2 separate regions of the Homo sapiens genome follow, and region 2 is linked to region 1. Evidence: fine-mapped expression QTL. A gene starts in region 1. The other region holds a variant in brackets. All regions are shown on one strand. Distances are from middle to middle.

Region 1 (5,376 bases):
CAAGTCAAATAGCAGGAAAGTAAGTCATCTCCTATTCTGCTGCGCTGATGTGAGATCTTCTATGAGCAAAATAGCTCAGGCAGATAAGTGTGTGGCTTTCCTTTCTTCATGGCAAATGCTTCCGTTTCTTTTGACAAATACATCGAATGGAATACCATAAGTCAGATAGTTTTGATCTCAGCCTTGTTTTTCAAAACACAAGCGGTTAACATGCCCTTTTACCTCTGAGGGATTGGAATGATCACCTCCTCCTGACTGTTTTCTACGGCCACCTCTAGCCCACTGCAGGCTTCCTTAGAGGGACAAGTGTGGCAGCCTCTTTGCTGGGCCCCCTGCCTCCAGCCTTGCTTCAGTTGAATCTATTGACCATTGTACACCCAAACTCATTTTCTTCAATGTCTATTTCAGTATTTCACATCTCTGAATGCAGATGTATCATAGAGCTACTTAAGTCCCTTTTCCAGGAGTTTTCAGTAGCCTGGAGGCAGATGTGGAGCGAGTAGGAGGCTGATGTCTTCGTTGGGATCCCCCAAAAGCAGACCCTGACACAGGCTTGGGGAGCAGTCGTTTCTTTGGAAGGAGATCCAAATGAGCACTACGAGAGAGTGGAGAAGGGACAGGGAGAGGAGAAAAGGCAGTAAAGTGTGTGTTTCTGAGCAGGTCACTGTGGGCCACCTGGGCACAAGCCCACAGGCATCACTGAGAGGCTCTGTGGGAGACACCTCAGAGTTGTCGCACTGAGACCAGGAGGCTGCGAGTTTAGCTATCAACTCCCATCCATTATTGCTTGTGGGCTGCTCCTGTGCCACCTTCTGGCCTGTCTTACCTGTGGCCAGGTGTCCTCAGGTGGAGGGGCTGTAGGTGAGGGCAGGAACCCTCTGCAGAAGACTCTAGGGGAGGCTGCGGGTCGGCCAACTCTGACAGCTGCTCCACAGTTGGATCTGTGTGTGTGTGTGTATGTGTATTCACACACACACACATGTACATACACACATGTATATGCATATGAATTTTTTTTTTTTTTAGATGGAGTCTCTGTTGCCCAGGCTGAAGTGCAGTGGCATGATCTCGGCTCACTGCAACCTCCACCTCCCAGGTTCAAGCGATTCTCCTGCCTCAGCCTCCTGAGTGTCTGGGATTGCAGGCACCCGCCACCACTCCCGGCTAATTTTTGTATTTTTAGTAGAGACAGGGTTTCACCATGTTGGCCAGGCTGGTCCCGAACTCCTGACCTCAAGTGATCTGCCTGCCTTGGCCTCCCAAACTGCTGGGATTACAGGCGTGAGCCACCGTGCCTGGACTTATGCATATGATTTTTAAAACAAAAATAAGATCTTACTATGCTTACTGATATTTTTGACTCAACTGTCTTGGACAACTTTTCACATCAACAGAGATATTCTATTCCCACATTATCCATGGTTGAATAGTATTCTATTGGGAGGATGCATCCCCATCAGACATTTGTTTGTTCGTTTGTTTTAGAAACTGGGTCTCACCCTGTTTCCCAGGCTGGAGTGCAGTGACGTGATCGTAGCTCACAGCATCCTTGAATCCCTGGGCTTGAGCGATCCTCCTGCCTCAGCCTCCTGAGTAGCTGGCACTATAGGCACAAGCCACCGCACCTGACCCCCTATCAGACATTTGTTACTTCTAAATGTGGTTGACATAAACAAAGGTGGACAAGAACAATCTTCCTGAAACATGGCTGGCCACAGCACTTGGTATCTCCCTTTTGCTTGAAACCCACTGATAGCTCTCCATTACCCACAGGGCCAAGCCTAAATTCCAAACCTTGGCATTCCAAACCTTGGCCTGTCCCTGGACCTCTGCTCTCTGCCCAGCTCCTCTTCTACAGTCAGACAGTTTGACCCACCGGGTCATCTCAGGTCCTGTCCATTCATACACCTGGGTCTTGGCTTGGGCTCTGTCCCCAGCCTGATAGCGCCCGTCTTCCCCTGCTGCTTGGCCCCATCAAGGACTGACTTCCTTGGAACTCCATCCCTCAGCGGTCAAGTCCTCTCTTTTTCATTATCCCCGGGGCGTAGTCTTATCTTTCTGCTCTCTTTCCATGGATACATTTTCACTTCCCAACAATGCTGGGACAAGTGACCATACTGCTTATGCCTCCAGGGTTCAGATGGCACATTGCACACGCAGACACTTCCTTGGTCAAGGTTTGTTGATGATGAGCAAAATGGCTTGTTCTCTTTCTACCTGGAATGAGAATGGAGATGGAGAGAGGCATCTCTGTGTTCTACTCACTGGGGGGCTGTGACCCCAGTGCCTGGATCTCAGCTTGTTAATGGCTGTTGAAGCCATAAGACCCATGGGGACAGTAAAGTAATGCCCACAAGCCTGCTCCCCTAGAGACAGGTACTACGGAGCAAAGGAGGAGGTGGGAATGGTCTTTCTGGTTCTTACTCCAGGACTGGCAGGAAGGGGAGCTGACATGGAGAGTGGGGGAAGGGCTACTCGGGGTGCTAAGCCCAGCTTCCTGTCTGGATTTTCCTTGACTGCTGCCGGGGGCCTATCTTAGGATGGTCACAGCTGCAGAAATAGATCTCCCCCTTCACCTGTTCTTAAGCAAGGAAGACCTTGCTAACTTCCTGTCAAAAGAACGCGTGCTTTGGTAACTTTTCCAGTACGGGAGACAGTACTGGGGACGCGGGTGCTGAAGTCACCACGATTTTCCTCGTCTGAGGAGCAGTGGCTCACCTTGGCCAGGAAACAGGGCAAATAGCCGCAAGGAGAGAGGCGAGAAGCCGGCCACGTGTTTCCAGCCAGAGTCCTCAGCCTCTTCCGTGAATTCGGGCGGTGTTTCCTTCCTTGGTCTGCTCCAGAAACCACTCTTTCCTGGCAGGAAGCCCCTCTCTCTGTCAGAGTGACAGGGAACAGACCCTTTGTCCTCCTCACTCGTCTGCCCTAGCCCCCAGCCTGCTCCTGCAAAAGTCTCTGTTTCTCCTGAACTTTTCAGCTGAGTCAATCGGGCTCTGGGACCCCGAAACCAAGCCTCCCCAGTCACTCGCTTATTCACTCAACAAACACACCCCCCTTCCCCGCACTAACCCAGGCCCAGTTCTGGGAACCAGCAAGGGGAGGGGAGGGGAGCCCCGAGCAGCGCGGCGGGAGGTGGACATGCCGGGGAGGAGACTGGCCTCCTGGTGGCGGGGGAGGGCTCCTGGGGACCCCAAGTCCGCGGAGGAGGAGACAGGAGGGAGCAGGGAGATGGAAGACCCAGGAGCACGGGCGGGCTCCGCGCATGCGTGGGAAGAGACCTTGGCGTCCTCGGCGTCGCCAAGGCAACCGGCGCCAGCCATGGCCTCTGGGGCGGGCGGAAGCTGGGGTCGCTCCCCACCGCAGAGCGCAGTCCCGACGGTGAGGGCTGAGCCCGGGAGCAGATCCTGCCTTAGCTTGGGAGACGGCAGAGTGGGGAGCTGTCCCTGGAGGGGCCAGATCCTGGAGGGGTGGGGGACGAGGAGAGACAGCCCCAAACCGAGAGGAAGAGGCGTGGCAGGGAGCAGGGAGGCCGCGGGGCGGGGAGGAGAGAACCTGGCCCCTGCGGGGTTAGGGAGGCCACTGGCCGGGGGGGTTGGGGCTCGCGACGTGTCCCCATCCATTCCCCCCACCCCACCTGGCTGACTCCGCGCACACCCCCAGCCCTGGGTCACCTTCCTGCAGCCCCTCTCGTGGGCCGTCCCACCTGCGCCCCCGCAGCCAGGCCGCGTGAAGGAAGGTGAGACTCCCGGGTCCCCCCACCCCACCCCCACCATCACCACCACTCACCCTCTTCTGCCTCGCACATCCTCTGGGAGTCCCCGCAGCACAACCCGCCAACCCATTCTTCACCCCCGGGACAGGGGTGTCAGGGGGAGGGGGACTCGGAGGCCCGGCGTGGGCTTGCTGAACCCCGCTTCCTAGACCTGCTGGAACTGATGATGCTGCAGAACGCGCAGATGCACCAGCTGCTGCTGAGTCGCCTGGTGGCTGGAGCGCTGCAGCCCCGGCCTGCCTCGCCCTGCCCTCAGGTGCGTGTGGGTGGGCCGCCGGGGTCGCTCACCTGTGGGTCCAGGGATGCGGATCCACCTGGGGTTCCTGTTCAGGGGGGAAAAGAACTGGGAGACAGAGGAGCAGGAAGCCAGCCCGTCTCTCTGGCTGGGGCTGTTTGGCATCTGTCATGTTTCAGCCTCCATGAAAGGTTGGGGCGGGGAAGAGACCCCCCAAAGTCCAGACCACCGAGGTCTTGTTTTCAAGGAGGTTTCCCTGTAGTGCCTCCCCCACTGGACTTAAGGCTCCAGGAAGGTAGGCACCCTGGTAACCCTGCCCCATGCATCATGAGCGTCTGGCCTGGTGCCTGACACCGTGTAGGGGCTCAGCTGATATTTGTTGAACGAGTGAATGAATAAATGAATGGTTAGGGATACAAAGCCAGGTTGGCTGTGATGGCACATGGAGAGGTACAAAGCACAAGTGCACATAGGGTTGGGGGATGGGGACAGGCTCCTTGGAGGAGCAGAGGATCTTAGAACCAGCCCTTGAAAGCCAGGTAGGATTTTGACCCTTGGAGGAGGCGAAGGGTGTGTCCCCCATCCAGGCTGGCAGGGGCAGAGTCAGGAGACAGAATGGGGGAAACCGTGTGCGGCAGTGTGTGTGTGCAAGAGTGTGTGTGTGTATGTGTGTGCAAGTGGGTGTCTGTGTGCATGCGTGTGTGTGTGCAAGGCTGTGTACATGCATATGTGTGTGCAAGTGTGTGTTCACGTGCGTGTGCAAGGGTGTGCGTGCACGTGTGTGCGAGCGGGTTGTGAAGGCAAGTGTGTGCGTGCAAGCAAGTGTGTGCGTGCAAGCAAGTGTGTGCAAGTGGGGGTGTGTGCAAGCGTGTGTGTGCATGCATGTGCATATAGCTCTAAGGCTGAGCCTTACTCAGCCAATAGTGGGCATCCTGAGGTCAGGAGAAGCAGGGACTGGGTGGAGAGAGAATGTTGTTCAGCTCGGAGGAGGCGGAGAGGGGTTCAAGGAATCCAGACAGAAGGAGACCCTGAGGAGCTACTGCCACCCCTCACCCCTGGGTCCTCAGTGATGACACATAGGTGGGTCCAGGGGCCGGGGGTGAGGCCGGGGACAGCTCAGTGGACTCCTGGCCCCAGCTCTGGGGGTCACACCTGGAATCAACTGGGTGGCCAAGTTGCTCAACGTCCTTGAGCTACAGGAGTAAATGTCTCCACAATTTGTTGTCCGCATGTAGTAAACGCTCAATAAACACAACCCATTCTTTTTTTCTTTTCTTTTCTTTTTCTTTTTTTTGAGACGGAGTCTCTCTCTGTCACCTAGGCTGGAGTATAGTGATGCAATCTCGGCACACTGCAACTTCCACCTCCT
Region 2 (5,376 bases), 34 kb after region 1:
AAGGCCACTCATTAACCTCAAAATAAGGCAGCTCCGCAAATCATATGGTTGTATTTCTGGACCCCACTTACTGGTTATGAAAATATTTTACCATTTATTTGATCGGTCTTTCTAATTGTGCTGTACAAATCTTCCACATCTTAAATTTTTGGGGGTCTATTTGATCAGTGAGAAAAATGGTTAAAATATCCATTGTTGACAATTTTTCCTTGTAGTTCAGTTTTTGCCTTATATATTTTGAAGCTATGTTGTTAGGTGTCTAAGGATTCGTGCCTTATATGTTCTATTCAGTTATTTTTTTTGATAAAAATGAAATATCTTTTTCTGTCCCATTCAATCCTTTTCTTTTTGAATTCTGTCTATAGCCAGCCATAGCACTCTGAACATGCCTGATCTTGTCTGAATTCTATAGAATCTGATTGGTATTGCTAAACCAGCATTTTGTTAATATTTGTTTGCTACATCTTTTTCTATGTATTTATTTAAAAAAAAAAAAAATTTTGAGACAGGGTCTCACTCTGTTGCCCAGGCTGGAGTGCAGTGGCACCATCATGGCTCACAGCAGCCTAGGCCTCCCCAGGCTCACGTAACCTCAACCTCAACCTCCCAAGCAGCTGGGACTACAGGTGCACACCACCACACCAGCTAATTTTTGTATTTTTTTGTAGAGACAAGGTCTCCCTGTGTTGCCCAGGCTGGTCTTGAACTCCTGGGCTCAAGCAAATCCACCCGCCTTGGCCTCCCAAAGTGCTGGGATTACAGGTGTGAACCATCGTGTCCGGCCCATGCTGTCTTAATTATAATATTATAGCATTTGGAAGGATAATGCCCTAATATTATTCTTTTTCAGAGCTCTCCTAGTCATTGGTTACTGTTCTTTATGCAATTCTACAAGAAACCTATTCAGATTTTTATTGAGGTCACATATGACATCTTTACAGTGTTGAACAGTGTTGAGCTTTTCCGTCTCTCTTTCTATGGTTTGTGTGTGTGTGTGTGTGTGTGTGTGTGTTTTCTTTTTTCTTTTTTTTTTTTTTGAGACAGGGTCTCACTCTGTCACCCAGGCTGGAGTGCAGTGGCCCGATCACGGCTTACTGCAGCCTCCACCTCTTGGCTTAAGCAATCCTCCCACCTCGGCCTCCAGAGTAGCTGGGACTACAGGCACACACCACCATGCCCAGCTAATTTTTGTATTTTTTTTTTTTGTAGAGATGGGAGTCTCACCATGTTGCCTAGGCTGATCTTGAACTCCTGGGCTCAAGCAATCCACCCACCTTGGCCTCCCAAAGTGCTGGGATTACAGGTGTGAGCCACTGCGCCCAGGTCCTATGTCTTTATTTTCAGCTTTCCCGTGTGCATTGATTGGGAATTGGTTTCACTTCATGTAGTAGAAACAAACTAATGCAGCTCCGTCAGTAAGATTTTTTTCTCACACAAGAAGTCTGAAGGCTGTGGTCCAGAAGAGGTGAACATCAAAGACGCATCAACCAACTGGGCTTCTTCTACCATTCTACCATTTGCTCCTCTGTATTTTTTTCTTTTCTTTTTTTTTTTTTTTTTTTTTTTTGAGACGGGGTCTTGCTCTGTTGTCAGGCTGGAGTGCAGTGGTGCGATCTCAGCTCATTGCAACCTCTGCCTCCTGGGTTCAAGAGATTCCCCTGCCTCAGCCTCCTGAGTAGCTGGGACTACAGGCATGCACCACCACGCCCGGCTAATTTTTTGTATTTTAGTAGAGATGGGGTTTCACCACGTTGTCCAGGATGGCCTTGATCTCCTGACCTCGTGATCTGACCGCCTTGGCCTCCCAAAATGCTGGGATTACAGGCATGAGCCACCGCGCCCAGCCTTTTTTTTTTTTTAGGCGGAGTCTCGCTCTGTTGCCCAGGCTGGAGTGCAGTGGAGCAATCTCAGCTCACTGCAACCTCCACCTCCTGGGCTCAAGCAATTCTCCTGCCTCAGCCTCCTGAGTAGCTGGGACTACAGGCACCTGCCACCATGCCCAGCTAACTTTTTGTATTTTTAGTAGAGATGGGGTTTCACCGTGTTAGCCAGGATGGCCTTGATCTCCTGACCTTGTGATCTGCCTGCCTCGGCCTCTGAAAGTGCTGGGATTACAGGTATGAGCCACAGTGCCCAGCCAATGCTCCTCTGTATTTAGGGCATAACTTAGACCTCCTGGTTGAGAGAGAGCTACTGTACCTCCATGTCGGTGACAGCATTCCAGACAGGAAAAGGTAACAAGGGTAAAGGACACAGAGACATGCAGATGGAACAGTCCTTTTTAGCAGAAAAATGAGAGCTTGCTATGAAGCTGCACCCAGCAGAATTCCACTTACATCTTAGTGCCTGGAACTGGGTTCCATGGACACCACCAGCTGCAAGAGAGTCTGGGGAGTTCAGCCTTTTAAAATGAGCACGTTGCTTCCCTAAAAAAAATAGGGTCTCCATTAGTAAGAGGGGAGGATGAATCTTGGGTGAATAACTGGCACTGTCTGCTTCACCACAGTATTTTGCTTTTGCTATTTCTTGTAAACAGCATATAAATGAGTTCTTTTTAAAAACCCAATATGAATTTATAAACCTTCAATAATAAAATAGTATGAGACCAGTGCGTGAATAGACAGGGATAATTAGAACAGAA[T/C]ATAAATTTCAGGAATAGGCCTAAATACACATCATAGTTTAATAATGTGATAGGGGTGACATCTCAAAATAAATGGGGGAAGTCATGGACTATTCAGTAAATTATGTAGAAAAAAATAAGGCTAGACCTATACTTCACACCATATACCAGGATAGATTCTAAAAGGTCCAAAAGCCAAAATGTAAAAAAAAAAAAAAAAAGAAAGAAAAGAAAAGAAACCTTAGAAATCTGTAAGAAAACCTGGAATAACTGTTTTATAACATAATCCATATTTCAAAGTGAGTGTGATACACCGCAAATGACCACAAATTCTTTGAAGCTCTTTTCCATCAAGAGATGGAGTCTATTTCTCTACTCCTTGAATCTGGCCTGGGCTTGTGACTTGTGTAGATCAACAAAGTCATCAGAAATGCCACTGACAAGTTCCAGAGCCTAGGCCTCCAAAGGCTCTGAGCCTTTGGCTGTGCTCTCTTGGAATGCTGTGGTCTGTGAAGAAGCCCAGGCAAGCCCACGGAAGGATGAGTGACCGCGTGGAGCAGAGACAAGTCACGACTCAGATAGATGAGCAAGGCCATCCTAGACCATCCACCTCCTGCTGAGCTGGCCCTGACTGAAAGAGCCACCCAACCACCTACAGAGTTGTAGGCAAACAAATGATTGCTATTTCAAGCTGTTTTGTTTGTTTGTTTGTTTGTTTGTTTTACTACATATTGGAGTAATTTATCACTTTGCAACAAAAGATAACTGTAACGTCACTTCTAAAAATTTATCCTGCAGATAGAATTGCAACATGTGCAAAATGACAGACATTAGGTCCAGACCATTCATTGCCCCATTGTCTGTAAAATCTTTTTGTGGGGCAGAAACGGGGATGACAGGGTCTCACTCTGTCACCCAGGCTGGAGTGCAGTGGCATGATCATGGCTCACCACAGCCTTGACCTCCCAAGCTCAGGTGATCCTCCCACCTCAGCCTCTAGAGTAGTTGGGACTATAGGCACCTGCCACCATGCTTGGCTAATTTTTTTTATTTTTTGTAAAGACAAGGTTTTGCCATGTTGCCCTGACTGGTCTCAAACTCCTAGGCTCAAGCGATTCACCTGCCTCAGCCTCCCAAAGTACTAGGATTACAGGCATGAACCACTGGACCTAGTATTGACCCATCGTTTGTAATATCTAAAGACTGAAAACAACCTAAACCTCTATCACTAAGGGATGGGTGAGTAAGTTATTATATATTCATACAAAGGGATACTAGACGATGTGAAAAAATATTAGCACCTATATGCTGATATGGAAGGATCTTCAAGAATATTGCTAAAGTATATAATAAAAAGATATATATGGCCAGGTGTGGTGGCACATGCCTGTAATCCCAGCACTTTGGGAGGCCAAGGTGGGAAGATCATGAGGTCAGGGGTTCGAGACCAACCTGACCAACATGGTGAAATCCCGTCTCTACTAAAACTACAAAAAATTAGCCGGGCATGGTGGCATGTGCCTGTAATCCAAGCTACTTAGGAGGCTGAGGCAGGAGAATCACTTGAACCCAGGAGGTGGAGGTTGCAGTGAGCTGAGATCGAGCCACTGCACTCCAGCCTGGGCAACAGACCGAGACTCCGTCTCCAAAAAAAAAAAAAAAAAAGTATATACAAGAATGTTCATAATCACCTTATTCATAATAGCTAAAACTGATAATTCAAATGTCCACCAACAGGTAAAGTATGGCGTATTCATACAATGAAATGCTACACAACAAAGAACAAATAACTAATATACCCAACAACAGGGATGATCTGAAACAATATTGAGTCAAAGAAGTCAGACACAAAGAGAACATATTGCATGCTTCCATTTCTATGAAGAGTAAGAGGAGATGGATCTAATCTATGGTGATGGAAGCCAGAGGGGTGGTTACCCCCTGGGGAATGGAGAGGTGTGTTTGGACTGAAAGGGGCAAAAGAGGACCTTCTGGGGAGGTGGAAATGCTCCATGTCTAGATCTGGGAGGTGGTTATACTGGTTTTTATAATGTATGTAAAAATCACCAAGTTGCACATTTAAGATCTATGCATTTTACTATATGTAAATTATATCTTAATTTTTCTTTCATTTTTTTTTTTGGAGACAGAGTCTGGCTTTGTTGCCCAGGCTGGAGTATAGTGGTGCAATCTCAATTTACCTAGGCTCAAGTGATCCTCCCGCCTCAGCCTTCTGAGTAGCTGGGACTACAGGTGTGTGTACCATGCCTGGCTAATTTCTGTTTTTTTTGTTTTTGTTTTTGTTTTTGGTAGAGGTGGGTTTTTTTCATGTTGTCCAGACTGGTCTTGAACTCCTGGGCTCAAGTTATCCTCCCGGCCCAGCCTCCTAATCTTTCATTTTTTTTTTTAAGAGACAGGGTTTCACTATGTTGCCCAGGCTGGCCTTGAACTTCTGGGCTCAAGTGAACCTCCTACCTCATCCTCTCAAGTACCTGGGACTACAGGTGTGTGCCACTGTACTCAGCTTTATAGCTTAACTTTTAAAAAGAAATATTGCTAAAGAGAAGAAAAAAAAGCAAGATTCAGACTAGTGTGCATAGTATGTGCATAAAAAAGTGGGAGAAAGAATATGAAGTCATGTTTGCTTAAACAACGACTGTAAGGATACCCTAGAATCCAAAGGAGACAGTCTACTTCGGTGGTGGATTTACCAGAAGGGGCCAGGGAGGGGAGAGGGAGGCATTTCACCTTTTATC

What was found. PIP is the estimated chance that this variant, and not a neighbour inherited with it, causes the effect.
Region 2: its variant is the best candidate, but not a certain one, in a credible set for the expression of PRR29 in tibial artery (GTEx, PIP 0.76).

What each region holds. Positions count from the first base shown.
Region 1 is chr17:63,995,047-64,000,422 of GRCh38, forward strand. PRR29 (proline rich 29) reads left to right here and starts at 3,305. Exons shown (of 6, transcript NM_001164257.2): 1 at 3,305-3,378; 2 at 3,661-3,736; 3 at 3,922-4,028. The coding sequence starts at 3,319. It overlaps PRR29-AS1 (PRR29 antisense RNA 1), which reads right to left and starts at 4,853. Exons shown (of 3, transcript NR_126169.1): 1 at 3,279-4,853; 2 at 2,719-2,876; 3 at 1,025-2,217. RefSeq lists a silencer at 3,188-3,237 and an enhancer at 3,491-4,468.
Region 2 is chr17:64,029,122-64,034,497 of GRCh38, forward strand. No RefSeq gene overlaps it. Among named protein-coding and RNA genes, the nearest start is that of ICAM2, 11 kb to the left of the region's middle. The variant T/C (reference allele first, on the strand shown) is at 2,642.